Homo sapiens: one gene and its partners. The protein of the gene in region 1 purifies or fractionates together with the protein of each later gene. This does not show direct contact. Each region holds a gene or a part of one and is shown on either strand. Other genes may lie near its edges.

Region 1 (3,171 bases):
CTCAGCTGTAAAATGAGAGGTTGATCTGGATCAGGGATAGTAAATGGGCCTTTGTTCAGTTACTGACTGTTGTATAACAAACCACCCCCAAATTTAGTAGCCTTAATAAACATTTATTAGCTCCTGAGTGAGTGGCTTGGCAGTTTGGGCTGTGTTCAGTGTGGTGGTTCTTATCTCATCTGGGCCCTCGTGTGGCTGAAGTGAGCTGGCAGATCAGCTGGGGACTGGCTGGTCTCAGATGGCCTCGCCCGCCTGTCAGGTGGTTGGCTGGGCAACTGGGCCACACGTTCCAGCATCTAGCAGGCTGACCCAGGATTCTAGACATCATGGCTGAGTTCCAAAAACCGCAAGAGAAGACAAGCCCAGTATGCGAGTGCTCTTGAGGATATTGCTATGACGTATCTTTTGGCCAAAGTAAGTCACATGGCTAAGCCCAAATTCTTCTTAACAGGAGGAGCTTCAAAATATGGCCATATTTAAAAAATCTACCTCAGGACTCATTTCACTTGCCAACTCAGAACTTTTAGTAGCAGCTGCCTGGAGTGCCTTTTGAGGATCTGCAGCAATTTTCAGACTGTTTGGAAATACTGACATGATAGTTTGGCAGTTTCTCTTATGAGCATGGAATTCAAGTGTGGGCACGTGAGCGTCAGGTATTTGCCATCCCTGGCCAGGTTGACCCGTAAGGTCATAACCTGCCCCATAGGATGTTATATGCAGTAGGCCTGTCTGACAAGACCACAGAAATAGAGAAGGCAAAGCAGAGCAAAAGATTCTGAGCCAGGCATCCTTGGTTTTCATCCCAACCAGATCATTGATTGATTGAGGTTTTAGGCAAATCAAAATCCCTCCACCAGTAGCCAGATTCTTCATAATAAACTTCCTCCATAACAGTAAACCATTTCCTGAACACCTGCTGTTAAAAAGCACATTTTACATTTACTTAATCTCCACAACCACCCTCAGTAGGTGTAGTAAGGACTTCTGGTTACAAGTTACAGAAACTGAATTCAGTCCTGCTTAGTGGGAGGAAGTTTATTGGCTCACAAATTGTAAAGTCCAGGGATCTTCAGACATGGGGACTTGGGTTCAAAAGCTGCCATCGAGAATCCGGTTAGCCAGGCATGGTGACACGTGCCTGTAGTCCCCGCTACTTGGGGGACTACAGTGGGAGATCATTTGCACCTAGGAGGTTAATGCTGCGGTGAGCCATGATCCTGCCGCTGCACTCCAGCCTGGGTGACAAAGCGAGACCCCAACTCAAGGGGAAAAAATCTGGTTTTCGGGCAGGTTCCAAGAAGTGGTAGAGCATGGCCATAGGGCCTGTGAGAATAGAGGGACAGAGGGGAGAATCCCCAAAAGGAGAGCAAGGCTTGGCTAACAAAAACAGGCATCCACTGTGTGGTTATGTCTATTCTATAGATTTTGTAGATGAGGTTTAAAAGCATGGCCCCAAGTAAAGGTGGCATCTCTATCCTATCCTCGCCTTTATCTAAACTCTGTGACCGATCAATAGCATATGATGGTGGTGGTGCTCTGCCAGTCTCCCAGTCCCAGACTGAAGCACTAGCAGCTTCCACTTATTATCTCTTGGGACTCTAGCTCTTGGGACCCAACCACCATGCTGTGAAGCAGCCCAGGCCACACAGAGAGGCCACGTGTACATGTTCAGCTGACAGCAGTATCAAATGTCAGACATGAGAGAGGAAGGCTTCAAGATGACTCCAGCCCAGCCACCGTCTGAGAACAAAGTAAGAACTGCCTCACTGATGCCATTCAAAGCCCAGCACCATGAGAGATAATAAAACGTTGTTTGAAGATGCTAACTTTTGGAGTGATTTGTTGTATCAGTAGATAACCAGGACACAGGCCCACAGAGGTTCAGTAGCTTGCTGTGCTTCTCAGGGGGCTAGGTTAAGAGTATAGGTTTTGTTGCTGGGCGCGGTGGCTCACGCCTGTAATCCCAACACTTTGGGAGGCCAAGGCGGGCAGATCACGAGGTCAGGAGACCGAGACCATCCTGGCTAACACGGCGAAACCCCGTCTCTACTAAAAATACAAAAAAATTAGCCGGGTGTGGTGGCGGGCGCTTGTAGTCCCAGCTACTTGGGAGGCTGAGGCAGGAGAATGGTGTGAAGCTGGGAGGTGGAGCTTGCAGTGAGCCAAGATCGCGCCACTGCACTCCAGCCTGGGCGACAGAGCAAGACTCCGTCTCTTGCTGACTCTTACCCATATGCCTGCATCTGTCTACCCTCTTTTCTATGTACTTGCTCCCTGGATGACTTCATCCGTGGCTTCAGACTCCACTCATGGCTCCATAATCTTCACCTCTAACTCATTTTCCTCCCAAGAACACCAGGGGAGTAGGTACAGATGCCCATCTAATAACTGTACTTCGATGTCCACAAGGACCTGTCCAGCCCCCACTTGCCCGTGTCAACCTCCTCCACTGCTCCATTAATTTTTCCCTCTGTGTTAATTTTTCCCTGGTTATCTTAGGTCCTTTCTGTGTCTTAATTGGACTTTTGCAGTAACCTCTAACTAGGCTCCCTGCTGCTCTTCCTACTCGGCTATCCGTTTTATCACCATCCCATTGGGTAAGATCCACACCCCTTAGCATGACATCCTAAGATGTCCAAGATATGACTGACCCCTTCTCAACACCTCCCCTCCCGTAATCTGCCTCCTCCATGTCTCAAGCCACGTGGAATAAATTGTGGAAAGACCTGTGCTGTCTGGCTTGTGCCTTTACACATGCTGTTATCTCTACCTCAAATGCTGTCTTCCCCCACTGGCTAACCCTTGTTATCCTTTATAACAGCTCAGAAGTTGCCTGCTCAAAGACACTTTCTTGGCCTGAATTAGAACTGCCCTCTCACGTGCTACTTCCATCACAGATCTTACCATCTATTATATTATTACATACACACACACACACACACACACACATAAAATGTATTTTGAGATCAGGGTCTCACCCAGGTTGGAATGCAGTGGCACAATCTCTCGGCTCACTGCAACCTCTGTCTCCCAGGCTCAAGCAGTCCTCCCACCCCAGCCTCCTGAGTAGCTGAGACAACAGGCATGTGCCACCATACCTGCCTAATTTTTTTGTATTTTTGGTACAGATGGGGTTTCACCATGTTGCCCAGGCTGGTCTTGAATTCCTGA
Region 2 (4,434 bases), on another chromosome or scaffold:
AGGTCAAATTCCAGTGGCAGAAACAAGATGCATCTCCAGAAAACAGTAAAGATGCCATACCAGGAATAAAGACAATAAGCACTTGGAGAGGTCAGATGCCCAGAGCTCCAAAAAGCTGACCAGAACCTTCACAGACAGGTAGGAAGTGCATACCCAGAAAAGACAGGACATGCTCAGGCAGTCCTACTCACTCCAAGTTCAGCTCATCCTAACAAAGACAACTTGCCAAATTAGATGGGCAACTCACATTCTTCTCAATCCCTCCCCACCGGAGGAACAAGCACCTCAACTGAAACATGCCCCAGTCACCACCCACGTCCCCAAGTCAGCACCTTGACCTGGTTTCCACATCTCCATCACTAGCATGGAACTCTTGTTGGGGTCATAAAGCTTACTTCTTTTGCTTTTTGTCTTACTTCTTACCTATGTTTCACAGTTTAGAAAGAACATTTCTTACTAAGACAAAAACTGTATTGTACAGACACTTGGACCTTGCTGACATGAGTCACGTTTTACAACAAAATGCACATGCCTTAGAAATCTGGCACATAAGGGCTTCCAAGACCATCAAGCAGTTGTTCTCAAACTTCAGTGTGCTAAAGACTGACTGAGGTGCTTATTTAAAATGCAAATTTGGGGGCCCCAACCAGAGATTCTGATTCAATGGGTACTCAATATATTATCTTGCTAGAGGTTAATTTAAAAATTTGAATATTCAATTGCAACTCTTTACTTCATTTTAGAGTCTTGGCATTGCATATACAGCAAATAAACATTTATTAATTTTATACTTCTCTGCACATACAACAAATCAACATTTATTAATGTTATACTTCTCTGCTATAAACAGGGTATGCATCCCTGGATGGCAGAGAGTCCTTCAGTAAGCTCTGCCCTGGGTCAACAGACATTTATTCCCATTTCACAGATGGACAGAGGACAGAGAGGAAAAGATCACCTGCTTCAGGTGACACACAAGGTAAGAACTGGCATGGAAGCTGACACCTATGTCTCTTACATTTCCTACATCAGAAACAGATGTAACATCAACCAGCCCTGGTTATCTGCGCTGTAAAGTAGAGTTCACACCAAGGAAAAGGAGACACTGACTTAAAGAAAAGAAATATTCTTTCCCTGTTTTTTTTGTTTTAAACATAAGACAATTTAAAGAAAGGGAGGAGTGCAAATTAAAGATTTCCTCGATCAAATTTTAACCAACTATGTATTTGTGAACCCATTTATTCAGGGACACACAGTGTTTAAAATACTCCTCTAAGGAAACAATTCCAGCCTGGGTCTAGGCAGCTTTCTAGGGTTTTGCTTGGGCAAACAGTGTTATTTCCAAAGTGTCCTGTAACCTGCTGAGTTTAGGAGAAGGAGAGGAAATTCAGAGCTCCCTTGATCCAGGAGCCAGAAGATTAATGTTTCGGGGGTCGGCAGGGGGTTGCTGTGACGGGTGTGAGTGGCACCACACCGGACAAATGCCCCCATGTTTTGGTCATCACACAAACCAGTTCTTGTCAAATTCCTCCCCAGAAAGTTTCCTGTGGCTCCAGGCCATGGGGCTGGGATAGTGCAGATTTTAAATCATGGAAACTTCAAGAACATACCTACTCTTCCTCTCTCCTCTCTGTCCAAGGAGCCCCCATCTGAGTACAGACTGACCATCACCCACCTGCAATAAACTACATCTCTGAGCAAAACACCAGCTGGGCTGGCAGGCCAGAAGGCAGCTTCCCCAGGTCACTACCCGCCAGGAAGCACCCAGCGACCCACGCACCACTCACTTTGTCGCCCCTCCGCTGCCCTCGTCGTTGTCGGAAGATGACGATGTAGAAGAGCCAGGGAAGTAGGCGGAATCCACGTGGTTGGGGCTGCCGCTCTGGGCCGGGTTGATGGGCGAGGACCGCTCATACAGCGGCGTGTGCTTCCCTTCGTGAGGAATGTTGCTGTAGCTGTTCTGCTCCGTCAGATTCTTCCCGCTCGTGTCCAAAGTGAGAGGTGCTGGCTCAGAGAGGCTGTACGGGTATGGACCCTGGCCCGGGGCGCCCCCTGGGCTGGGCACCTGTGGGGCCTGAAGCGAAGGGCACAGGTCACGCACACGTGGCCAGCAGGACCCGACTCAGGCCCAGGCTGACGTTTCCTGGCTCATTTTTATTTCAACAAACACTGGCATCTATTTCACGTATCAATTCAAGAGGTTAGGAACTTATTTTAGCATTCGTTGAAATTCAATGCACGCACCCTGTCTGAGACCCGCCACCCGACCCAACGCAGGGAAGGCCTTACCACGGGCTTTGCTTGCAGAGAGGTCTGCGGAATGTTGAGCATCTGAGGAGGAACATGCGGCGGCACCATCCCAGGCATTCCAAACGGACCGGGTCTGGCTGCTTCACCAACACAGAAAGAAAAGAATCACACAGCTGTGAACAGAATGCGTTTTCCAGGGCATCCTGGGGGCCAGCCCATGGCGCCAGGGATCTCACCCTCACCTGGCTCAGACATCGACACCACCATGGGTCCCACTTCTCAGAAATCATTACAAATTGCCATTTCACAGTAAGGAAAACTTAATTTTATGATGCTCCATTTGATGGACTCGGGCTGGGATTCTAACTTTCCAGATTTCTCAGTGAACTTGCCATAGTGGTTCTGCTCTCGTGTACTTCCTGAGGGCCTCGGCTGTCCCTCTGCCTGCAACTTGGTGGGGATTCTCTGTAACTCAGTCTCCCTGCTCAGGGCTGCTCCTAGCCTGAGGTCTCCGTGAAACCAGAAGCCCTGGCAGGCATGAAAGGAACAAAGTCGGACCGAACAGTTTCCTTTACCTTTGTCAAGCAAGAGGACTTTTCTATTTAAAGTACATTGCAACTACCATTAGGTTCTCAGCTAACTAGTGAGTTTTTAAATATAAAAGGAATTGCTTTTCATTGTTCAGCAATTAGGTTACACATTTTAACACATATACAGGATGAGTAATTTGTGATTCTGTGTTCTCTTAAAACATAATTTCATAAACCTGCCTGATGTGTGCTGCCATGTGCTAGTCATCATTCCCACGCTACCTTGCAAAAATGAAGAAATCTGTGAGAGGACTGAAAGCCACATAGAGGAATGGCTGAAGCAGGACAGCAGGACATGGAACCAGGCCAGCCTGAAGCTGGGACAGAAGGCAGGGGCTGGAAGCCTCCCCACTCAACCTCTGGCCTCGCGCGGCCTAACTAAGCACAGGAAGAGAGCTCAGGGGCCACGTCAGCCAACAGAAGTGAATGAGTGAGTAGATGGTGCCCATAAAGGGCTGTTCCAGAGACAGCACAAGACCCGCAGTAACAAGGACCGACTGGGGCCCAAATGATATGCAGGAAGCAGGAGGACATGGGACATGGACCTCTAGGAGCTGCACTCCCTCTCAGAACACTTAGGTGCTGAGGGCCTATGATGTGTCAAGCTGAGGACTGGGCCTGGGGATGAAAGGAGCCCTGAGGCGGTTTAAGTAAGATGCACACTGCTGAAGACACAGAGAAAATAGAAAACCTGTGTGAGACACAACAGATCCACCAGGGGCTTGCACGGCTGCACCATCTCTTCCTTGGGTTTGTTTTAAATGTGGAAGAAAACCAAGCCCAGAGCTTGCTGACTCCAATTTCCCTCTTTAAGCAGTAGATATGCTTCTACAACCTCTTCATCTGAACACCAGTTGATATGGTTAGGCTGCACATCCCCACCCAAATCTCATCTTGAATTATAATCCCCATAATCCCCACGTGTCTAGGCAGAGAGACTAGGTGGAGGTAATTGGATCATAGGGGCAGTTTCTCCCATGTTCTTCTAATGATAGTGAATGAGTTCTCACAAGATCTGATGGTTGTATAAGGGGCTCTTCCCCCTTCACTCGACACTTCTTACCGCTGCCTTGTTAAGAAGGTGCCTTGCTTCCCCTTCAACTTCTGCCATGATGCTAAGTTTCCTGAGGCCTCCCCAGCCATGCTGAACTGTGAGTCAATTAAACCTCTTTCCTTCATAAATTATCCAGTCTCAGGCAGTTCTTTATAGCAGTATGAAATCAGAGGAAAACACCAGGCAAGGGGAACACAACCCAAGAACCACCACCTCTCACACTGCCTACTGCCAATATAGGTAAGGACAGAAACATTCCCCAAACCTTCACTCTCGTTCTCTGAAAAGCAAATGTCCATGGCTGCATTCACAAGAGGTTCCCTAAGCCAACACTGGGCGTGGTGAGACCAGGAGTGCAAACGCTGTCCTTGGTCCGGCCTCCTGAGAGCCAAGCATGGTCAACAGACGCTGGGAGTGAAGCACAGATCATTGTTGACTCCCCCCAGAGAACGACCAGGAATCTTACAGACTACAATTTATCTGAGGTTCCTGCCTTCCAAGGGCCTTCAGCTCGCAAGCTTTAAACACCATAGCCCTTCG
Region 3 (4,434 bases), on another chromosome or scaffold:
AAGTTACTCATGGACTTGTTACTGTGGAAGGTCAGTTAACATCCGATGAGAGAGGCGCACACATAATGAACAGTACCTGTGCTGCGATGCCAAAGCTGCATGAACCATATGCCAGCAGTCAGTGTATAGCAAGTCCAAACTTTGGAACTGTGAGTGGACTCAAGCCAGCCAGTATGTTAGAGAAAAACTGCAGTTTGCAAACAGAACTGAATAAGTCTTATGATGTAAAAAACCCTTCTCCTTTATTGATGCAAAACCAGAATACGAGACAGCAGATGGACACACCTATGGTGTCCTGTGGAAATGAACAATTTTTGGATAACAGTTTTGAGAAAGTTAAACGGAGACTTGATTTAGATATTGATGGTTTGCAAAAAGAAAACTGCCCTTATGTCATAACAAGTGGAATAACTGAACAAGAAAGGCAACATTTGCCAGAAAAAAGATACCCTAAGGGATCTGGCTTCGTTAACAAGAATAAAATGTTAGGAACTAGTTCCAAAGGTAAGGAATCTTTGAAGCGTTTGATACCTTCTATGCAGATACCTTTATTTTAATACTCTTAATTGACATTTTTGGGAAAAAAGTGGTCTTTATTCATATGGGCACTTAATTTTATTTATCTTATTAGAAAGCATATTAGTCAGCTACAGTTTATTGCCATTTGATAGGCTTTCTTAAAGATTTTCTTGAGACAAGGTCTGGCTCTATCACCCCAGTTTGGAGTGAAGTGGCATGACTTCAGCTCACTACAACCTCCGCCTCCTGGGCTCAAGCCATCCTCCCACCTCATCCTCCCAAGTAGCTGGGACTACAGGCTCATGCCACCATGCCCGGCTAATTTTTGTATTTTTTGTACTGTAGAGATGGAGTTTCTGGCATGTTGCCCAAGCTGGTCTCAAACTCATGAGCTTGAGTGAGCCTCCCGTCTCAGCCTCCCAAAGCTGTGGGATTACAGGCGTGAGCCACGACACCCAGCCAGGATTTTCTTTTTTGAGACAGTCTGGCACTGTTGCCCAGGCTGGAGTGCAGTGGCACAACCTTGGCTAACTGCAACCTCCACCTCCCGGTTCAGGCAATTCTCATGCCTCAGCGTCCTGAGTAGCTGGGATTACAGGCGTGAGCCATCATGCCTGGATGGATCTTCTTATTTAAATGATGAAGCTTTCATAGTCCACTTGGTATTATTGAGAATATTAATAATTGGAGGAAACAGTTCTTTTTTTTTTTTTTTTTTTTTTTTTTTTGAGACAGTCTTGCTCTGTCGCCAGGCTGGAGTGCAGTGGCGGGTTCTCACCTCACTGCAACCTCTGCTTCCTGGGTTCAATTGATTTTCGTGCCTCAGCCTCCAGAGTAGCTGGGATTACAGGTGCTTACCACCTGGCCCAGCTAATTTTTATATTTTTAGTAGAGATGTGGTTTTGCCATGTTGGCCAGGCTGCTCTCAAGCTCCTGGCCTCAAGCGATCCACCCGCCTCAGCCTCCCAAAGTGCTGGAATTACAGGCATGAGCCACCGCACCCAGCCCCAAACAGTCTTGCCTGAAACATCACTTACAGTTTTAATTCACTGTATTGCTATGAGGTCTTTCTTTTGGACTATAGTTTCTAATGTTTATTTCAGTTTGCTTTTTCATTTGTAGTATGAGCTTCGTGTAATTGGTCCTTCAGTAAACACTTTAACATCAAATTATTAGACAAAGTATCAGAAATAAGGCTCTGAGTAGGTGGTTCAAGAACGGTTCTTTAGGCCGGCGCGGTTGCTTACGCCTGTAATCCCAGCACTTTGGGAGGCCGAGGTGGGTGGATCACTTGAGGTCAGGAGTTCGAGACCAAACTGACAAACATGGCGAAACCCCGTCTCTACTAAAAATACAAAAATTAGCTGGGCGTAGTGGTGCACATCTTTAATCCCAGCTACTTGGGAGGCTGAGGCAGGAGAATTGGATGAACCCAGGAGGCGGAGGTTGCAGTGAGCCGAGATTGCACCATTGCACTCCAGCCTGGGTGACAGAGCCAGATTCCATCTCAAAAAAAAAAAATAATAATAATAAAGGTTCTTAATTAATAAAAATTATTATTTCAGTTTTTTCTGTTGTATCCATTAACAGCAATTTATTAAAGCACGTTTTTCTCCTTCATTACCCCTTACTTTGTTGTCATTGTTGATAATTCTTTATTACTGATATAGAAGACATACAAATCAAGTAAGTTAAGCTCTTAGGGCTTATGGGAAATACAGGGTTGGGTCAGACTGCTTAAAACCTGTGCAACTTTTTTTTTTTTTAATTTTTTTTTTTTGAGACAGGGTCTTGCTCCGTCACCCAGGCTAGATTGCTGTGGTGCGATCTCAGTTCACTGTAGGCCTGGGTTCAAGCGATTCTCCTGCCTCAGCCTTCCAAGTAGCTGAGATTTACAGGCATGCGCCACCACGCCCAGCTGTTATATTTTTTGTGGAGACAGGGTTTCACCATGTTGGCCAGGCTGGTCTCGAACTCCTAGGCTCAGGTGATCAGCCCTCCTTGGCCTCCCAAAGTGCTGGGATTACAGGTTTGAGCCACCAGCCCTGGCCCATCCTGTGCAACTTTATAAGAGCTCTAATAAAAACAACCACTGTTACCTGGGGAGCCAACTTGGATCCTCCAAGTAGATAGCATAGCAAGGCAAGAGGCTGCCTCAGTGAATATCAGAAGTACATAAGACCAACAGAGTGGAAATTTCTTTTTTTTTTTTTTGAGATGGAGTTTCACTCTTGTTGCCCAGGCTGGAGTGCAATGGTGCGATCTCAGCTCACTGCAACCTCCGCCTCCCAGGTTCAAGCGATTCTCCTGCTTCAGCCTCCCAAGTAGCTGAGATTACAGGCATGCGCTTGTATTTTTTCAGTAGAGATTCGGTTTCACCATGTTGGTCATGCTGGTCTCGAACTCCTGACCTCAAGTGATCCACCTGCCTTGGCCTCCCAAAGTACTGGGATTACAGACGTGAGCCACCACACCTGGCCCATACTTGGTATTTGTACATTTCAACATGTCTTACCACATTCTATTTAGGAAGCTTGTATTGTCATAATGTTTTCTCTTAGTTAGTAACTAAATATCTGGAATTTTAACGTCCAGTCCTTTTTGAAACCTCAAGCTGAGAAAGCTTTATACCATCAAGGAAACACTTTCTTTGAAAATCAAAACAAGGCAAAACTACAAGCTACACTACCAGAGATCCTGGAGGACAAGTGTCAAAAAAACAAATGATGGTAGGATGCAGTTGAGGACCACATCTGAAAGTTAAGTAGAGTCAGGAGAATCTTGTCTGAATATATAGTCCTGGGTCTGTCATTTCAGATCAGGATGGGATCTGTTGAATGAGTGGGTAAAGGTGATGCAATACAGGTCTTACTTTATTGAGTAGCATGAAATAAAAGGAGTGTGGTTCGAAGTAGAGACCCAGCTATATCTTGATTGTATTATGTCAGATCCAGGAATACTCTCTTGTCAGAAGGATAATTTAAATTGATGGTATAAAATATCAGACATTAGACTTGTGAATTTTCTAAATTGAGGAAACATGTTTCTTTTCAGAAAGCGAGGAGTTACTAAAAAGCAAGATGTTAGCTTTTGAAGAAATGCGGAAGAGACTAGAAGAACAGCACGCCCAGCAATTATCACTACTCATAGCTGAGCAGGAAAGGGAACAAGAAAGACTGCAAAAGGTGAGGAATGTGGAGGGAGATACAACTGGTAAGTGAAATTTAGCCAAGGATACCTATGAATTTTGGTCATGTATAGAATACGTGTAATTTTTGCCTCCATATATCTTAAGGTAAGGGAGTCATTTTGATACGTGAATGGTATTTTTTGTCAAAATATGAATTTTGATATTTAGATCCTTATCTAAAAGTAATTGCATAATTTATCGAGAATATTTTATTGAATCCTTGATTTAAAGCTTAATATTTTAAAAAGGTATTTTATAAATAGGTGCTAAAGTACACATTCTGCAGGAGTTGTATCATAAAAATGACACTCATGCTGGGCGTGGTATCATGAGCCTGTAGTCCCAGCTATGCAGGAGGCTGAGGTGGGAGGATTGCTTGAGCCCAGAAATTCAAGGCTGCAGTGAGCTATGATTTCGCCTTTGTCTAGCCACTGCACTCCAGCCTGGGCAACAGAGGGAGACCCTGTCTCTATAAAAAGAAAAAAAAAAAGAACGACACTTGTTATAATATTATTATAATTAATAATTTAACTATACATTATCACATATTAAATTATAGCCTGGGCGTGGTGGCTCACGCCTGTAATCCCAGCACTTTGGGAGGCCGAGGTGGATGGATCACCTGAGGTCAGGAGTTTGAGACCAGCCTGGCCAACATATAGTGAAATCCCATCTCTACTAAAAAATACAAAATGGTGGTGTATGGACCTGTAGTCCCAGCTACT
Region 4 (4,434 bases), on another chromosome or scaffold:
TGTCTTTTGGGTCGATGGTGGCCAGCTGGTGAGTGGCACGGGCTGAGAGGGATGGGGCTGTGTCTGCCCAGGCCCATCTGCAGTGCCCAGTGTGCTTCCAAATACCCAGAAGGGCTCGTTTTGTCACAGTGGAGATTGTGGACCGGGAATGCCAGCCGTGGCCCTGGCCTGGCCCTGCCTCTGTGTGATCCCGGGAGAGTCTCTTGCCCTTTCCGGGTGGCGGATTCCTCAGCTGAAAAATAGGGATTGGGGCCAGGGGATCCCTGGCTCTGCTTCTGAGTCCTGCAGAGTCAAAGGACACTCCAAACAGGGGCTGGCCCTGCCCCTGCACCGAGTGTCTCTGGCCGCAGCCTGGGCATTCGGAATCAGCCCCTTGTTGCTGTTCGTTTCTGCTTCATGTGCCAGGCCATTGCCGCCCCCCTGCTCATGCCCTGGGCCTGACCTCAGGCCAGGTGGGACCTCCCTCCTCCTCCTGAGCCTGAGAGCTCTGCGTAGGCCCGGGGGGGAAGCCCTTGGTTTCTCCCTCATGGCTCCTGTTTGAGCAGTTGGGGCTGCCAGAGGTGTGACCGACCACAGGCTTTTAAATGTGGACAAGGTTAAAATTAATAATAACCTTGCCAGGCATTTGTAGGAGTCCTTTGCAGAGCACCTGCATGGACATTAGTCACTAACATGTATGGCATACCTAACATGTACTGGACTGTCCGCTCAGTACTTTGCCCACTTTACAGATGAGAAAACTGAGGCACAGAAAGGTTACCAGGACTTACGTAAAGTCATACAAAAGACAGAGGTGGGGCCTGAAGCCTGGCCCATTCAACCCCCAAACATCCCTTTGTTAACTGGCCAGACCTCTGTTGCACTTTGATAGCCTAGACATCTGGGTAGATGGGCACAGAGAGGTTAGCTTGCCCAGGCTGCACGCCTAGTTGGGTCTCAGTGGGAGGAGAAGGGGTGAGAGGAAGGTCCCTGGACCCTGGCTGGAGCCCGGCCCCCCGCGTGCCTCTTCCTTCCAGGTGGCCGACCAGATGACGCTGCTGCAGAACTGCTGGAGCGAGCTGCTGGTGTTCGACCACATCTACCGCCAGGTCCAGCACGGCAAGGAGGGCAGCATCCTGCTGGTCACCGGGCAGGAGGTGACCAGTCCCTCGGCCCCGCCCCTGGGCCCCGCCCTGGCCCCGCTGTGCACTTCCAGGATTCAGGGCCCCGGAGAGGAGGACCCAGGCCTCTCGGGGCTGGCTCTGGGCACCCTAATTATCAGCCCTTTCCCCACGTTCATGGAACACCCACTGGCCCAAACCCTCTGTGAGCAGCCCTGGCCCAGGCTTGAGAGGCGCCGGCCCCTGGGAGCCCTGCTCTTGGGGAGCAGCTCAGGGGGTGTGGGCATGGTGAGGAGAGGCTCATGGAGGAGGAGGTGATGGTGGCCCTGGGTCTGGAAATAACACACTGGAGTTGGCTGGGGAATGAGGGATGAGGGGGGCAGTCCCCACGTCTACCGCAGGCTCAGAGAGGGTGGAAGTGTGGAGCCCCCGGGCCCTGCTGGTGCCGGTGTGGGGGTGGCATGAGGTGAGAGATGAGGGAGGCTAGGGGGTTGCTAGTGCTGGCTTAGCAGGCAAACCTTGCAGGCCCTAAATCTCGAATGAATGAATGAATGAATGAATGGGCAAAGGGCTCCAGAGAGCTCAGAGTCGGAATTTGGGCCCCCTTAGAGCAGGGAATGAGGATCTGGGGAGTAGAAAGTCCAGATGCAGCAGGGGTCCGGGGAGAGCTTTAGGAGGAGGAGGGACATGGCCAGGTGGTATCTGAGGAGGCAGGCGGAGGGGTCAGGATGGGAGGTGGGGGGCCAGGGTGGGGACACGGGGGCACAGCCACGGAGGAAGACTCACCTGGAGAGATGGGCTGTAGGGAAAGAGAGGGAGGGGGGGAGGCAGAGAAGGGGGTTGATGGCCAGGGTCCAGCCTGCTGGCAGGAGTGCCACTCTCAGGTGGGGACACAGGAAGGGCCGTGGGGTCGGTGGGTGCTGTGGGGTGGGGAAGACAGACTCTGCTCCCAGCTCCAGCCCTCCCAGGCCCCCACTGCTCATCTCCAGCTCTCTCCTCGGTGTCACAGGCCATCGGGGCAGGAGGACGGGACGGGCAGCACTGGTCCCAGGGGGGTGTCTTTGGGGCTCCCTGTGAGCGCAGGTGCCTGCAGTCTGCATGAAGTGTGGGTGTCCGCAGGCTGGCTGAGTCTCTGTGGCCATGGGAATGCCTGTTTGTGTGTGTGTGTGTGTGTGCCTGCCTGTGTTTTATTGTGCAAAATCTCCACACACATCAGTGTGTGGGTGTCACTGTCTTCCCATCAACCCGTAAATGTGATCACATACATGGGTGTATGTGTTGCCGTGAGTGTGAGCGTACAAGGGCGGGTGTGGCCGTGTGCACACGTGTGTGCCTTCACTTCACAGAGTGGGCGACCCCATGACTGTGCTCGTGTGTGTGTGTGTGTGACTCTGAGCTGAGCTGTGACCCAGCGTGTAGGTGTGAACATGGGGGCTCTGGGAAGCCATGTGGATGTGTCTGTGTGTCCCCACACAGGCCTGCCCTCCCCAACCCCTCCCCTCCCAGCATGTAGAGGGGCCCCCTGAGCTGCTGGTGCTGCTGGGCCTGGTGCTGGGGTTTGTGTGTGAAGGAGGGGTGGACGCGGGCAGAACGTGGGTGCCTCAGCTCCGGGCTTGGCGGGTTGAGGAGAGCTCGGAAGGGTGGGCCCGGCAGCGTCCCCGGGGCTGTGCAGATGTTACCCGTGCCTGGCTCGGCACCAAGGCTGGGCCCTCCTGACGCCAGCCCATCTGACCTGCACCTCCAATCCATGCCCTCAGCCCTGCATCCCCCATCAGAGAGCCACCTGCCCGGACCCACGTCCTCTGACTGTCCCCCGCCCCGTGCCCTCTGCCCCCAGGTGGAGCTGACCACAGTGGCCACCCAGGCGGGCTCGCTGCTGCACAGCCTGGTGTTGCGGGCGCAGGAGCTGGTGCTGCAGCTGCTTGCGCTGCAGCTGGACCGGCAGGAGTTTGTCTGCCTCAAGTTCATCATCCTCTTCAGCCTGGGTGAGTGCAGCTCCAGTGACAGAGAGGTGGAGACAGCCAGAGGCGGGTGGGTGGGAGGGTGGGTGAGGCTGGAGAGGTAGCCCTGCTGTGGCCAGAGTGGCCACGAAGGAGCCTCGGGGAGAAAGGACCCCTCCCTTACTCATTCAGTGAACAAAGGTCTGAGGGCCCCCGGCCAGGGCCTGGCTCTTAAATGGGGGCTGCTCCCGCTCTGGTGGCCCATGTGACTTTAGGATTTTTATTCCAGGCTCCCATCCTGGGGTCCCTGTTTTCTCTAATCCCTGGATCTAGGGGGCCCCAATTTTGACTGTACCTCCTGGGGGCCTGGACCCCTTTGCTCATGCACACGTGCATCCATTCATTGACTCTACAAACAGGCACCGAGAAATTGCACTGGAGAAGGCACTGGGAATACCGCTGTGAGCAAAAACCCCCCAAGCCCAGCCCTTGTGGTACTGACCTTCTCTAGGGGAGACAGATCATGAGCATAATATGATTAGTAAGACGTAGGTTCCTAACACGATTAGGCAGGCATAGCCAGGAAGGTTGTGACCAGTGCTAAGGAGGAAAAGAAAGCAGAGGAGAGGCAGAGAGCAGGCCTGGCCCAGCCCAGCCCGGCCACCCACCTCACTCCCCAAGCACTTGGGGGGTCTCCTTCCCGTTGCCCTCCTGACCCCAACCCTGCCTGGGCCACTCCAGTCTGCACCCTCACTCCCTGGAAAGCCATCACAAATGCCCTCCCCATGCCCAGAGATGCTGAGGACATAGCTGTCCCTTGCCAATCGTGAAAAGACCTACAGCCTGGGTGGTTAGGGCTGAGACAGAGAGATGGGTGTGGCTTAGGGAACCCTGGGTGGGGAGCAGAGCTCTTTCTGGAAGGCTTCCTGGAAGAGGGGCATCTGAGCAGGGTTTTGGAGGATGAGTAGGAGTTTTCTGGGGGAATGAATTATTTTGCAGTGATGCAGGTGGGATGGGATAGAGATGAGTGAGTGCTTCATCACCTGGAGAGGGGGCAGGATTAAGGTATTGTCTTGGTGGCTGGCATTATAGTCACAGTCTGCGAGGGGCATGCCTGCCAGAGAGAGGGAGGAGTGGGGAGTGGGGAGTGTTGTGGAGGCAGAGGGGATTAACGAAAAGTGGGAAGCCCAGTGCTTGGGTGGGATTGGTGACATCCTCCATGCCATGTGGCTGGGTGCAGTGGGCTGGGTCTCCCGATTCTGGCAGAACAGGCTGGTAACTGGAGGGCTTATCTGCAAGGCCACCTTAAGCCACCTCTCAGGACACCAGCCGGGGCTCTGCAGGGGTCAGCAGGGGACAGCCATTGGGGTGGGGGGCGGGTAGGATCTTGGGCA
Region 5 (4,401 bases), on another chromosome or scaffold:
GCAGCCTCCGCCTCCAGGGTTCAAGTGATTCTCCTACCTCAGCCTCCCGAGTAGCTGGGATGACAGGCACCCGCCACCACACCCAGCTAATTTTTGTATTTTTAGTAGAGACGGCATTTCACCACGTTGGCCAGGCTGGTCTTGACTCCTGACCTCAGGTGATCTGCCAGCCTCGGCCTCCCAAAGTGCAGGGATTACAGGTGTGAGCCACCGTGCCCGGCCTTGGTTGGTTGGTTTTTGAGACAGGGTCTCGCTTTGTCACCCAAGCTGGCATGCAGTGGCACAGTCACAGCTCACTGTAGCCTCAGCCTTGATCTCTCGGGCTCAAGGGATCCTCCTACGTCAGCATCCTGTGTAGCTAGGACTACAGGCACGCGCCACCATGCCCAGCTCATTTCTTAATTTTTTGTAGAGTTGGGGTCTCACTATGTTGCCCAGGCTGGTCTCAAATTCCTGAGCTCAAGTGATTCTCCCACCTCAGCCTCCCAAAGTGCTGGGATTATAGGCATGAGCCACTGCACCCAGCCTAGATGTGTTTTCTTACAGTCTAGTAGCCCATAGCCAGACGGTGACGTTGGCCACCCTTACACAGCTGTGTACCGTGCCAGATAAAGCTGTATAAACCCCATTAAACATCCTGTGTGAGCCGCAGAGGCGGGGCTGCAGTTTAGTCGGTCACTTGTCCGTAGCTTGTGCCTTGCGCTGCAGGACTCGGACGGTGAGGACCCCCTGGTCTACAGTGGCCCTTGCTCTGCCCTGGTCTGTGCTCTGCCCTTTGCCCCGCTTTGCCCATCCGAGATGGGTGTTGGGGAGCAGCGTCTCTCTAGAGACCCACATCCTGTGGGGCCAGGCAAGCCTGAGAAGTCCCTCCAGGGCAGCCTGTGTCTCTTCTGGCCACAGAGTTCCCTAACAGCTCAGTAGCTCGTCAGACAGTGTCACTGATGTTGCTCCTGGAGTCGGCTAGCCATTGTGCCCTGCCCTTCCCAGGACTCAGTTTACCTGCCCCTACTTTGATAGTCACCTGGCTTGGGAGGGCAGCTTCTCCAAGGGTGGTGCCAAGGGACTGTCCCTTGTGCCTGCAGAAGGCCTGTTCTTCTCTGGTCCCACGTGGCTCTCTGGCTAGAGGTTTCCTGTCTGCTTTTGCAAGGATTCTGCCTGAGGCCAGGGCTGCAGCTGCTGCCCCGAGCCTGCGGCTGCGGGATCTCCTAGCTTGCTGGCCACAGGCGGGAAGAGCCTTGCCTCGGAGGCTCTCTGCCCTGTCCCTGTTGCGTCCTCCCCTTTTCATCCCATGGCCATCCCCCTTGGAACAGGCACAGCTCCCCTGGATTGAGTCTTTGCTCTGTACCCAGCCTGTGCCATGTCCTCCATGTGTGTCGCTGTAGTACTGCCCATAGGTGCTGTCCCCGTTTTACAAATGAGCCACAAAGGTGGCCAGGCACGGTGGCTCATGCCTGTAATTCCAACACTTCGCAAGGCCGAGGCGGGTGAATCGCTTGAGCCCAGGAGTTCAAGATCAGCTTGGGCAACATAGTGAGACCTAGTCGCCACAAAAAGTACAAGAATTAGCCAGGCGTGGGGGTGGCACATCTAGTCCCAGCTATTCAGGAGGCTGAGGTGGGAAGATCGCTTTAGCCCAGGAGACCAGGGGTACAGTGAGCAGTGATTGTGCCACTGCACTCCAGCCTGCATGACAATGAGAGACCCTGTCTCAAAAACAAAGAAACAAAAAAGGAGCCACAAAAAGGTTTGGCTGAGCATCCCAGGGGTCAGAGACAGGGAGTGGCAGACCAGGCTTCTGATACAAATGGGCTCAAGGTCAGTCCCCACCCCCACTCCCCAGTGCCCCTCACCCCTAGCCACCCCCTCCATCCCCTGGGTGACCAGAGCAGTACTGTAAAAACCTAAACTGAGTCCTCCCCGCTCCCGCGGTGAAAAGCCCTGTGCAGTTTTCTACAGCCCCGCCTCTAGAGTCTGATTCAAAACCAGCTGCAATTTCTTGGCCAATGCCTGTCTTCTCATCAGACTGAACTTTGTGAGGGCAGGCGACACACATGTCCTGGTCCCGGCCAGGCCTGGAGCAGCCCAGGGTTCGGCCTGGAGGAGATGTTCAGTGACATGCAGAGGCCCAGGCCTGGCCTTTGGTCCCGGGCACCTGCAGCAGAGGGCGCATGGGACAGACCCTCAGCAGGACTTCCAGCCTGAGAGCAGCTGGACGGCCAGAGAGGTTAGGCTGGCAGCAGAGGCGAGTGGAGGTGGAGGTTCCGCAGGTACTCACTGGCCCTTGCTGTGTCTTCCCCCGCTGTCGCCACCCCACCAGTATCTGAAGAAGCTGCACACGCAGGAGCGGGCGGTGGAGGAGGTGAAGCTGGCCATCAAGCCATACTATCAGAAGAAGGACATCACCAAGGAGGAGTACAAGGACATCCTGAGGAAGGCCGTCCACAAGGTGGGCACCCGGAGAGAGGGGCAGACACAGGCCGGGGAGAGAACGAGCTGGAGGGACAGATGTGTGCAGACAGATGGACGCGGATGGGAGACGGGGAGGAGGTCAGTCTGGGAGGTGAGGAGGGTGACAGGATTTTCTCAAGGCCACCTGGGCCTGTTCCGCTGGCCCTGGGGCACCCATCGTCTAGGGGGACAGAGGGACTTTGGCCTGGTTATTGGGGAAGCTCCTCCTACCGCAGTTCCAAGCTGCGCCCAACAGTCCTGGGTGGATGGGGCCCCGGGAGCCTGGTGGTGACTCCAACTGTCCCCGGCCCCCCAGATCTGCCACAGCAAAAGTGGGGAAATCAACCCAGTGAAGGTGAGCAACCTGGTGCGGGCCTACGTCCAGCGCTACCGCTACTTCCGCAAGCACGGTCGCAAGCCAGGGGACCCCCCAGGGCCCCCACGGCCGCCCAAGGAGCCAGGGCCCCCAGACAAGGGTGGCCCGGGCCTGCCCCTGCCCCCTCTCTGAGAGCCCTGGCCAGCTCTTCGCCCCTCACCTCTTTGAAACTCTGGACGTATTTATGGCTCCACCTCCCCACCTCCCTCCCCCGTCAGTGGGATGACTGGGGGAGGGTTGCTGCAGGGAAGAGGAGAGCCCCCTGCCCTGCCCTGCCCCGTGTCCACCTCCCTTGCCCCCAAGCCTGTCCCCAGTGCCCCTCCCTTCTGTTTGTGCCCCTCTCCCCAATTTCATTAAAGATTTCATGAAACATTACCCCTGAGCCCCATGGTTCTAACCCTTTGTTTTCGGAGACAAATTTGCCAGAGGGTTGGGGAGGGACCCCCAGGAGGCTGAGGATGGGAGACAGAGACCAGACTGTGACTTGGGGCAGCTGCCTCCCCTGGGCCTCAGTTTTCTTATCTGTGTAGTGGGTGTTGTGATGATTGAACAAGACACAGGTGGAGCACTTAGCACAGTCTCTGGCTGGGAGCGAGCTGCTCACAGGGAGGCAGGGGCCGGACCCCACCTGATCAGCATCTTCCCAGCTCGGCTCCTGGGTGCCATGTGCCTGCCTTGGAATTGCTCCCAGAGCAGGATCTGTGTTCCCCATTGAGTTGGCTTCTCTTTTCAGCAGCCCCGTGAAGCTGGGGTGATCTCATCAACTGTCCTGAGAGGGAAACTGAGGCACAGAGCAGCAAGGGCCGAAGGGTGAGTCAGGGCTGCGCTGGCTTCTGCCAGTTTCATCACCCAGAACTGCGGCCCAACCAGGAGAGGTGACAGTGCCCAGGGTCACCAGGCAGGCAGGCTTTGCAGGCTCCAGGGTGGCCGCAGAGCCCCTTTACCAAGACCCCTCCAGCCCCACGTGGAGGGGAGCCTGAGGCCTGGAAGGAGAAGGACCACTTGCCCAAACTGTTCATAGGCAAGGCAGGGGGCCTGGGTTCTGGCTAGTCTTTGTGTTTCCTACTCTGTGACCTTTGCGCCTCTCCCAGCCTGTGTCTTGGTCTACAACACGGGGACAGCCATCACCCACCAGGTCCCTGGGCAGAAGTGAGGAGGTGTCAGCTGCCCCCTGCAGTGCTTGGTCTTCATGCATTGAGCACCTGAGTTGTATATAGCTGCACAGATGGGTAAACTGAGACCCTGAGCGGGAATAACAACCATATTGGGTCAGAGGGCACCCAACACCAGACACGCACAAGTGATCATAGCAGGAACCAGTTTATTGGTTGAGGTGGTGGGGAACAGGGGGGTTGGAGGCACACCATGAGGAGCGAGGGCTCAGCTCTCCCCAGGGCCCTGGAAATCCATGCCCTCCACCAAGTCCTGCAGGTAGGCCTTGTACTGGTCGGAGGTGAGGGAGAGTGGGTGGCTGTTGGAAATGTGCAGGTCCACAGTATTCTCCAGGGAGGAGGCACCCCCTACCCGGGCCATTTCTACCAAGGCCCTGAGGCACGTGGGCACAACCTGCAGGGGAA
Region 6 (4,434 bases), on another chromosome or scaffold:
CCGCGCCTGGCCAATAATTTTAATTTTATAGAAAAGTTGCAAAGATAATACAGAGAGTTCCCCAGACTCCTTACCCATCTTCTCTCACTTAAGTTACTCTGGTGAATTTGTCACAGCTAAGTAACAACCAACATTGGTATATTACTGTTGGTTGAAGTTTTTTTTTTGTTTTTTGTTTTTTGTTTTGAGACAAGGTCTCACTCTGTTGCCCAGGCTGGAGTACAGTGGCATGATTATGGCTTACTAACCTCCGCCTCCTGGCCTGAGACTCCCAAGTAGCTTGGATTACAAGTGTGCACCACTATGCCCGGCTGATTTTTGTATTTTTAGTAGAGACAGGGTTTCGTCATGTTGGCCAGGCTGGTCTCGAACTCCTGACCTCAGGTGATCCACCTGCCTTGGCCTCCCAAACTGCTGGGATTACAGGCATGAGCCACTGTACCTGACCAAGTTTTGTTGTTGTTTTTTTTAAATCTATTCCACCAATATATATCTTTCTTTTTTTTTTTTTTTTTTTTTTGAGATGGAGTCTTGCTCTGTTGCCAAGGCTGGAGTGCAGTGGCGCGATCTTGGCTCACTGCAAGCTCCGCCTCCCGGGCTCACACCATTCTCCTGCCTCAGCCTCCCGAGTAGCTGGGACTACAGGTGCCCACCACCATGCCCGGCTAATTTTTTGTATTTTTAGTAGAGATGGGGTTTCACCATGTTAGCCAGGATGGTCTCGATCTCCTGACTTCGTGATCCGCCCGCCTCGGCCTCCCAAAGTGCTGGGATAACAGGTGTATATCTTTCTTTTTTTTTTAACCTTCTTGACCCTTATCTTTCATATCTTTTAAGTGGAACATTTTAGTCCATTTATGTTTAAGGTTAATATTGATATGTGAGGTTTTGTTAGGTATATTACTATTAAATAAGTTTATGGGAAGGTTTTTTTTTGTTTTTTGTTTCTTTTTGAGATGGAGTCTTGCTCTGTCTCCCAGGCTGGAGTGCAGTGGTGCGATCTTGGCCTACTGCAAACTCCACCTCCTGGGTTCAAGCGATTCTCCTGCCTCAGCCTCCTGAGTAGCCGGGATTACAGGTGTGTGCCACCACGCCCAGCTAATTTTTGTGTTTTTAGTAGAGACGGGGTTTCGCCATGTTGGCCAGGCTGGTCTCAAACTCGTAACCTCAAGTGATCCACCCACCTCAGCCTCCCAAAGTGCTGGGATGACAGACGTGAGCCACCATGCCTGGTCATGTTTTCTGTTTTTTTTTAAGACAGGGTCTCACTCTGTTGCCCAGGCAGGAGTGCAGTGTCACAGTCATGACTCACTGCAGCCTCAACCTCCTGGGCTCCAGCAATCCTCCTCCTTCCTCAGCCTCTAGAGTAGCTGGGACCAAAGGTGTACGCCACCACACCTAGCTTATTTATTTTTTGTAGGGACAGGGTCTGGATCTGTTGCTTAGGCTGGTCTCTAACTCCTGTCCTTAAGCGATCCTTCCTCCTGGCTTTCCTGAAGTGTTGGGATTACAGGAGAGAGCCACTGCCCCTGGCCTCATTTACATTTTAAAAGACCCCTCTGGCTACCTTGTGGAGAACTGAGTGTTCCCTGGGGTCAGAGTGAAAGCCTGGTGACTAGCAAGGGGGCCGGAGCGGGGCCGGGGCCGTGGCTGGGCTGCAGGGCCGCAGTGGGAATGGAGATGGAGAGGAGGTGGCAGGATTTGGGACTGTCCTTGAGGTTACTCATTCACCATTGTTCCCAGCACAGACTGCAGCGCCTGGCACATTGCAGGTGTGGATTGAGTGCCTGGAAAAGCTGCAAGCTGGTTTGGGCCTCTGTGTAGGGGGAATGGGCTGAGCTCAGCAGTTGGTGTCAGGCTCCTGACACGTGCCATCTGGTTTGGTGAAAGTCTATGCCGTCAAGACATGCTGGTTTGGGGTGAGCCACACTGGTTTGGAGCTTCCGATCTGTCTTCATTTGGTTCCCTTTTGCTCTGTAGTATCTGTGCAGTGGCAGAGCAGTAGAACCCAGGGTTAGGGATGGAGGTAGGTGCAGGAGGGGTGGCCTTAGAGGAGAGGTGGATCCAGGGGTGCCCCCTCCCAGTTCTCTGTTCAGGTCTGTATTGACCCTCGGGATTGGAGGCCCTCTTCTCATCCATCGTGGTGGCCTCCATACAGGTGAATCTCAGCGATCCCAAACAGAAGTATGAGCCATCAGACCAGAGCCATGTGGACTGCGTGTGTCCCATCCAAAGGGCACAGCCTCTGATCTGCTGTACCCGATTTTCTTTTTTCTTTTTAAGGTGGAGTCTTGCTGTGTCGCCCAGGCTGGAGTGCAGTAGCACAATCTTGGCTCACTGCAACCTCCACCTCCCAGGTTCAAGCGATTCTCCTGCCTCAGCCTCCCGAGTAGCTGGGACTACAGGCTCCTACCACACCTGGCTAATTTTTGTATCTTTAATAGAGACAGGGTTTTACCTATTTGCCAGGCTGGTCTCGAACTCGTGACCTTACGATCCGCCCGCCTCGGCCTCCCGAAGTGTTGCGATTACAGGCGTGAGCCACCGCGCCTGGCCCACTGTACCTGATTTTCTGTGAAGTCAGAGGCCTGATTTTCAGGTGTGGGCAAGTTGGACATTTTTTAACGTGCTGCATGGGCAACAGAACATATCTACGAGCCCCATTCTGTTCTTGGGTCCCCACTGTTTCCCTCCTGATCCAGTTGAACCCCAGGTGACAGATCTTCCACAACAGATGGGTGATGAGAAAAGGAGGGATACTTGGGGGCTTTGCCATCACTGGGGACCCATCATCCCCAGTGATGCCAAATGAGGCCGATTGTGGCCCGGTGGGCATGGCCTGGGCAATCAGGGCTCAAGACCATCAAGCTACGCACGATGGGCCTAGGAGAAGATACTGATGCTGTTTTTCTTTCTCTCTGCCCAGTCTGAAGAAAGGAAAAGAATAGATGAATTGATTGAAAGTGGGAAGGAAGAAGGAATGAAGGTAAGGGGCTGCTGTGCTTGCTGCATCATAGCTAAAGCTGGAAGAGCTCACCTTCCCTGGTCCCGTGGCTGAGAGTGGCCACCATGTGGCTTTCACCCTCTAATGGCCATGGTGACCAGGCAGACTCTATTAGGTTGTCAAAGAGCCAAATACCAAAAGTTGTTAAGGAAATGTCTTATGAAGGAAACATAAATGGGCTTTGTATATAAATGTTATCCAGGGGAAGCTTTTCTTAGAAATTGTGGTTAAACAATTCAGTGGCTTTTTGTACATTCACAATGCAATGCAACCATTATCCCTGTCTAATTTCAGAATTTTTTCATCCTCCCAAATGGAAACCCTTACCCATTACTTACCACTGCCCACCATCCCCACCTCTCCCCTGCCCAGCCCCTGGCAGCCACTCAGCTGCTTTCTGTCTCAGTGGAGTTGCTCTTCTGGGCACTTCATATAAATCGGATTATACAATATGTAGCTGATGCCCAGGGAAACTTTTAAAAGGAGAAACTAATACATTTTTAAACTGTTTTCCTAGATAATGACAATGCCCAAGAAATGTGCTTTTCTCTTACTGTATTTCAACCACACTCAGTTTGGGCGAGAGGAGAAGTACTCTCTACAGTGGGGTTCAGATGGGCCTAGACTAGGGCTCCGGGTTCAGAAAGCTTCCACTTCCACCCACCACCTAGGGGGATTCCGGCTTAAGTCCTGGGCCCCTCCAGCAACCCCATTCAACTCCATGTAGAATAGAGTGAGGAGACACAGGAGAGAAATCGTGGAATGAGGTAGAGACCCAGAACACTGGGCCTGCTGTTTGCCTAGGAAGGCATAGCGCATAGCCCCTAGACAGAGAAACCAGGTGTGTGGATTTGAGCTGTGTCACTGTCTAGCTGTGTGGCCTCAGACACGTGGTTGTGCCTCTTTAAGCCTCAGTTTCCTCATCTACAAAATGGGGCAGTCTCCACCTAGCAGATCTCTCACGAGCTCTGATGTAACTGCTTTGCAGATGAGCACCAAGGAACCACGTTTGTGGAGTGAGGGAACGTTCTAGAGCTGGCCTGTAGTGACGGTTGCACAGCTGTATACACTTCATAAAACCCATCAGCCTGTACATGTAAAGTGAGTGAATTTTATGACATGGCTCAGTACAGCTGTTAAAGACTGGGGTAAGCCCCAGCTCCCCGGAGACCTGCTGTGCACAGTGGCATCCATTGCTATTATGAACCAACACCCTCTCTTATCACCTGACAGATTGACCTCATCGATGGCAAAGGCAGGGGTGTGATTGCCACCAAGCAGTTCTCCCGGGGTGACTTTGTGGTGGAATACCACGGGGACCTCATCGAGATCACCGACGCCAAGAAACGGGAGGCTCTGTACGCACAGGACCCTTCCACGGGCTGCTACATGTACTATTTTCAGTATCTGAGCAAAACCTACTGGTGAGT
Region 7 (4,434 bases), on another chromosome or scaffold:
GCAGGTGATCTGGAAGAAGCAGCAGCTGAGCGTGCAGCCCTGTTCACTGTGATGGCATTTAGAACAGTGGCGTGGGCACAGAGCGTTGGCCCTACACGTCCCCAGAGATGGGGCAGCTGTTGACATGCACAGATGCAGCCCAGGCAGCAGCGTGGAAAAGCACAGACATTGTTACATGGAAGGGGGATGAACTGTCACAGCGAACGTGCCCTGTGCTCTGGGTTTGGTCTTCACAGCTAAGAGGGTTGGGCTTAGTCCCACTTTACAGGTGAGAGAACTGAGGATCAAATAAGAAATCCAGTTAAAGTGCACAGGCTAACTCAGGCCCAGGTCCCAGGCCAAGCTGTGCATGAATAAAGGTAGATTTGGGTGAAACTTCCAGGAAATTGTAACAGAATTGCAGTTGTTTCTGTCCACATCCTTTGACCAGGGCTATGAGCCTGTTTAGTAAGTGTTGCCATTCATGCCTGTGTGGCACCCATCCCCTCCCGTGTGTGGTCACAGCACTCTGGGTGCCAAGGGCAGCTCGGCGGTCAAGAGAGCGCACTGGGGCCACCATGCCTGGCCTTACCACCAAGGTCCACCCCCAGCTGGCTGTGTGCCCCCAGGCAAGGTCCTTAGCCTTTCTGTGCTCTTGCTTTATCATTTGTAAGTTAGAACTGATGATAAAACTTCTTCCTAGGATCAGTGTGAGGATTAACAAAGTTAGGGCATGGAGGCAGCTGGCGCCATGTCTGCTCAGCACTCTTGACACGTTAGACCATGGTGGTGATGGCGGTTTCCTCAGGATCCTCTCAGGCTTGTCCTGCCATGTACCCAGCCACCCACCCACCCATCCATGCATCCCCCCACCTGTCCACGCATCCCCCCACCTGTCCACGCATCCACCCACCCATCCATCTACCCATCTACGGATTCATCCATCCACCCACCCACACATCCACCTACCCACCACCCACCATCCATGCATCCATCCACCCACCCACCCACCCCCCCATCCAACAATAGGTGGACCCTATCCTGTTTCAGACAAAGTGAAAAAGACATGCACTCAGCCTTTCGAGGGGCTGCCAGCTCTGTGTGGGCCTCAGCTTTCCCATCTGTCCCAGGGTGACGGCCTCATCCTCACAGGCTCATGCTGTCAGCCAGTCAGTCCGTGTGCCGGGGAGTTGGCCCCTAGCAGTGCTGCCTTCTTAATTCACAGATAGACTGGCACTTTGTTCTGTAGTGACTTTGATGGGACAGCTGTGAATAGCGGCCATTTAGCGAATTGCGTTTGAGCTTGTCTGTCAAGGGCTATGGGTGAAAGCCGAACTGGCTGAGTTGAGAGCGTGTCAGGGTGAAGGCTTTCTGATGTGCCGGGAAGACATGTGAAGACCTTCAGCGCTAGTGGGTGTGTGGCCCTGACGGCCTCTCCCTGCACTGGCTTTCATGGTCCCTGGGATGGGCTGCCCTTCATGGGAACCACGATGTGTTCACGCAGGTGTCTTGTCTGTTCTAGCAATGGCGCTTGCTTCCATATCTGGCAGCTGTCTACGCCTTAGACCATTTCTCCAAGTCGCTCTTCCTGGACCTGGTGGAGCTCCAGCGAGGACTTGCATCGGGAGACCGCAGCGCCAGACAGGTGAGGTGGTGTCTGCTTCCTCAGCAGCATCGTTTAAATCTCACACGGTTGGAGCAGCATAGATTCAACCTTCATTTCAAAGCAAAATCAGTCCTTTGATTTGCGAGGACAGAGCATTCCTCCAGTTGTTCCCACCCACTCGGAGCTCTTGGCCTCTGCCGCGATTGAACGGGCTGGGCACGCGTCCACACCCCTGCCTCTCAAGGATGTGCTGACACGACTCCCGGTTCCAGTCTGTGAGTTCAGCTGTTGGTCTCCTTTTGAGAACATGACGGTTTTGCAAAATCCACGTTACCCGCCCCTCAGTGGATTTCATGGTTCTGAGCCTTTTGTAAACAGCTGCACAAAGGTCTGAATCCCACTGACTGGATTTGAGTTGACAGTCAGAGGATTTGTGCCAGAAACGAGCGTGCAAATCCCGAGATCAGCCTCGGCATAAAGAGACATCGGGAACGGATTTCTTTGTAGATGATTATGAACTGATTTTCCATTGTCCCTCCTGCTGCCTCCTGAGCAAGAGTGAAATGTGAATCAAAAGAAATAACCGTGTTTGAAAGCAGAGGAGAAACGCCACAGATTGCTGTTATGTACAACATCAGAAAAAGCCTGTATCTAATTAGCATATCTTGAAATATTATCGGTGTCCACATTCACGGCAGATGATGGCGAAGGGATGACCTGCAGGATTGATGGCAGAGCAAACCCCAGGCCTGGAGGCCTGAGGAGGGAGCGCTTCTGACCACTAAAGGGGTTAAGCCTGTGTTTTCCCTGGAGCGTGAGTCAGTGGAGCTTTTGCCAGCTGACACTTGCATTGTTCTCCTGTGAATAATGTTGTAAAGGGTGACCAGGCTGATTCTTTCTGAAACTCAGTGGTTTAACCCAGGCAGAGGAGGGCCTCAGCTCAGCCCCTTATGTGAAGTTGAAAACACTCATAAAATGGGTCACTGGACTTAGCATGCGTGTGTGTGTGTGTGTGTGTGTGCGTGTGTGTGTGTGTGTGTGTGCGTGTGTGTGTCTTCCTCTTAATTGTTTTTCCTTTTTAATTGTCTTTCTTTTTTAAAATTAAAAATTCTTCTTTTACTCTGAATCAGTCTCTTAAGTTTTTGTTTGTTTGTTTGTTTGTTTGTTTTTGAGACGGAGTCTCGCTCTGTTGCCCAGGCTGGAGTGCAGTGGTGCGATCTTGGCTCACTGCAATTTCTGCCTCCTGGGTTCAAGCAATTCTCTTGCCTCAGCCTCCCAGACTAGCTGGGACTACAGGTGCCCGCCACCACACCTGGCTAATTTTTTTTATTTTTCAGTAGAGACAGGGTGTCACCATGTTGCCCAGGCTGTTCTCAGACTCCTGAGCTCAACTGATCTGCCCGCCTCGGCCTCTCAAAGTGCTGGCATTATAGGCGTGAGCCACTGTGCCTGGCCCAGCCTCTTAAGTTTTCATCATTAGATATCAAGCAGAAGCAAAGGAGTCTTCTTTCTTTTTTTTTTCCCCTTAAAAAAAAGCCTGCAGCACCTGCTATTCCCAGGCGGTCTCCCATCCAAATACTAACCACGCCCGACCCTGCTTAGCTTCACGAGATCAGGCTCATTCAGGGTAGTTTGGCCATGGACAGCAAAGGAGTCTCAATAAAACATGTTAGGCCTGAGGGAGGCACGGTGAGCCCCCACACAGAGCAGACCATCAGTTACCGAGGCGCTTGCAGCCTTCTGGGAATGGACTGGTCCCGGCCCTTCCCTGTCCTGGGAGCGAGCACTGTCTGCGGTGCTGAGTCTGGTTCCCTGGCCTTTCTTCATGGTTTCGCTGCAAACAATTGCAACCTTCCATGGTGTGTCATTCACTTTGACGTTTGTGAACTTTATATAAAGTGGGCCATGACGCACATTCTTCTGCAGTTTGCTTCTGGGACCCGTGTTAGGGCCCTGAGAGCTATTTGCTGTGTAGAGCTGTGTTTTCATTGTTGTGAAATGGTATGAGCGTACCACAGTGTATCCATACTTGGATAAAGACCCTTTTTTATTTCTAATTACAATTAGGTTTCCTCTTCTGTCATTTTCGGGATGTCTTGTATTAGACTAGAGGTGATATGGTGGTTTGATGCTATTGCTGACTTATGACTTTTTGGTGTCTAAAGTCTCTTTTCACCTGTTCTTGTTGGATTCCCTCACCCAAAGGCAGAGCTTGGACGTGAGATCCACGCCCTGGCATCGGCCAGCAAGCCCCTGGCCTCGTGGACCACCCAGCAAGGAATTCAGGAATGCCGGGAGGCGTGTGGAGGACACGGCTATCTGGCCAGTAGGTTTTGGAGAAGCGCATGGTGGTTTCCTGTCCTTAGCCCTGCTGTTTGACTCTAGACCAGGGGTCGGCAGACTGCGGCCTGAGGACCAAATCCAGCCTGCCACCTGTTTTTGCAAATAAAGTTTTATTGGAACACAGCCAGCCACCCCCGTTCATTTGCACATTTCCTGCAGCTGTTTTCGCACTGCAAGGGCAGAGATGAGTAATCGCAGCTGTGACAGAGACCATGTGGCTTACAGAGCTGAAAATATTTACTCTCTGGTCCATTGCAGAACAAGTTTGCCAACCCCTGCCCTAGATAGATCCCACTGCTTTCAGATGCCTGATGCTTCTTGGCCAAAATATAGGCAGAGAGCAGCTGATCTGCTCATTTGAATTTTAACTATTTGGTTAACAGCTTGGTAGTAAACTAGCACCATGTTTTGTTTGAATAGAAAATTCTTACACTTAGATAAAGAGTTAGTTATATCGGCATTGATGATGACTGAGGCAGCTGTTATATGGTTAAGAGCGGAGGCCA

What was found.
Region 2: the proteins of RALY (region 1) and FAM120A purify together in Homo sapiens (affinity purification with mass spectrometry; one large-scale study listed by BioGRID and IntAct). This does not show direct contact.
Region 3: the proteins of RALY (region 1) and CCP110 purify together in Homo sapiens (co-immunoprecipitation; one large-scale study listed by IntAct). This does not show direct contact.
Region 4: the proteins of RALY (region 1) and NR5A1 purify together in Homo sapiens (co-immunoprecipitation; one study listed by IntAct). This does not show direct contact.
Region 5: the proteins of RALY (region 1) and SCAF1 purify together in Homo sapiens (affinity purification with mass spectrometry; one large-scale study listed by BioGRID and IntAct). This does not show direct contact.
Region 6: the proteins of RALY (region 1) and KMT5A purify together in Homo sapiens (affinity purification with mass spectrometry; one large-scale study listed by BioGRID and IntAct). This does not show direct contact.
Region 7: the proteins of RALY (region 1) and ACOX3 purify together in Homo sapiens (affinity purification with mass spectrometry; one large-scale study listed by BioGRID and IntAct). This does not show direct contact.

The regions. Positions count from the first base shown.
Region 1 is NC_000020.11:34,083,059-34,086,229, forward strand, and holds the end of RALY (RNA-binding protein Raly), read left to right. Parts: 3' UTR 1-1,826; downstream 1,827-3,171. UniProt on the Homo sapiens protein: RNA-binding protein that acts as a transcriptional cofactor for cholesterol biosynthetic genes in the liver. Binds the lipid-responsive non-coding RNA LeXis and is required for LeXis-mediated effect on cholesterogenesis.
Region 2 is NC_000009.12:93,513,623-93,518,056, reverse strand, and holds part of FAM120A (constitutive coactivator of PPAR-gamma-like protein 1), read right to left. Parts: intron 2,391-4,434; coding exon 2,290-2,390; intron 2,075-2,289; coding exon 1,788-2,074; intron 1-1,787. UniProt on the Homo sapiens protein: Component of the oxidative stress-induced survival signaling. May regulate the activation of SRC family protein kinases. May act as a scaffolding protein enabling SRC family protein kinases to phosphorylate and activate PI3-kinase.
Region 3 is NC_000016.10:19,537,084-19,541,517, forward strand, and holds part of CCP110 (centriolar coiled-coil protein of 110 kDa), read left to right. Parts: coding exon 1-504; intron 505-3,573; coding exon 3,574-3,704; intron 3,705-4,434.
Region 4 is NC_000009.12:124,489,732-124,494,165, reverse strand, and holds part of NR5A1 (steroidogenic factor 1), read left to right. Parts: intron 1-1,016; coding exon 1,017-1,136; intron 1,137-2,937; coding exon 2,938-3,085; intron 3,086-4,434. UniProt on the Homo sapiens protein: Transcriptional activator. Essential for sexual differentiation and formation of the primary steroidogenic tissues. Binds to the Ad4 site found in the promoter region of steroidogenic P450 genes such as CYP11A, CYP11B and CYP21B.
Region 5 is NC_000019.10:49,655,444-49,659,844, forward strand, and holds the end of SCAF1 (splicing factor, arginine/serine-rich 19), read left to right. Parts: intron 1-2,317; coding exon 2,318-2,446; intron 2,447-2,764; coding exon 2,765-2,956; 3' UTR 2,957-3,199; downstream 3,200-4,401. Other genes in the region: IRF3 (interferon regulatory factor 3), read right to left, coding at 4,146-4,390.
Region 6 is NC_000012.12:123,400,647-123,405,080, forward strand, and holds part of KMT5A (N-lysine methyltransferase KMT5A), read left to right. Parts: intron 1-2,926; coding exon 2,927-2,986; intron 2,987-3,992; exon of another isoform or gene 3,993-4,105; intron 4,106-4,237; coding exon 4,238-4,428; intron 4,429-4,434. UniProt on the Homo sapiens protein: Protein-lysine N-methyltransferase that monomethylates both histones and non-histone proteins. Specifically monomethylates 'Lys-20' of histone H4 (H4K20me1).
Region 7 is NC_000004.12:8,391,810-8,396,243, reverse strand, and holds part of ACOX3 (peroxisomal acyl-coenzyme A oxidase 3), read left to right. Parts: intron 1-1,501; coding exon 1,502-1,624; intron 1,625-3,790; coding exon 3,791-3,911; intron 3,912-4,434. UniProt on the Homo sapiens protein: Oxidizes the CoA-esters of 2-methyl-branched fatty acids.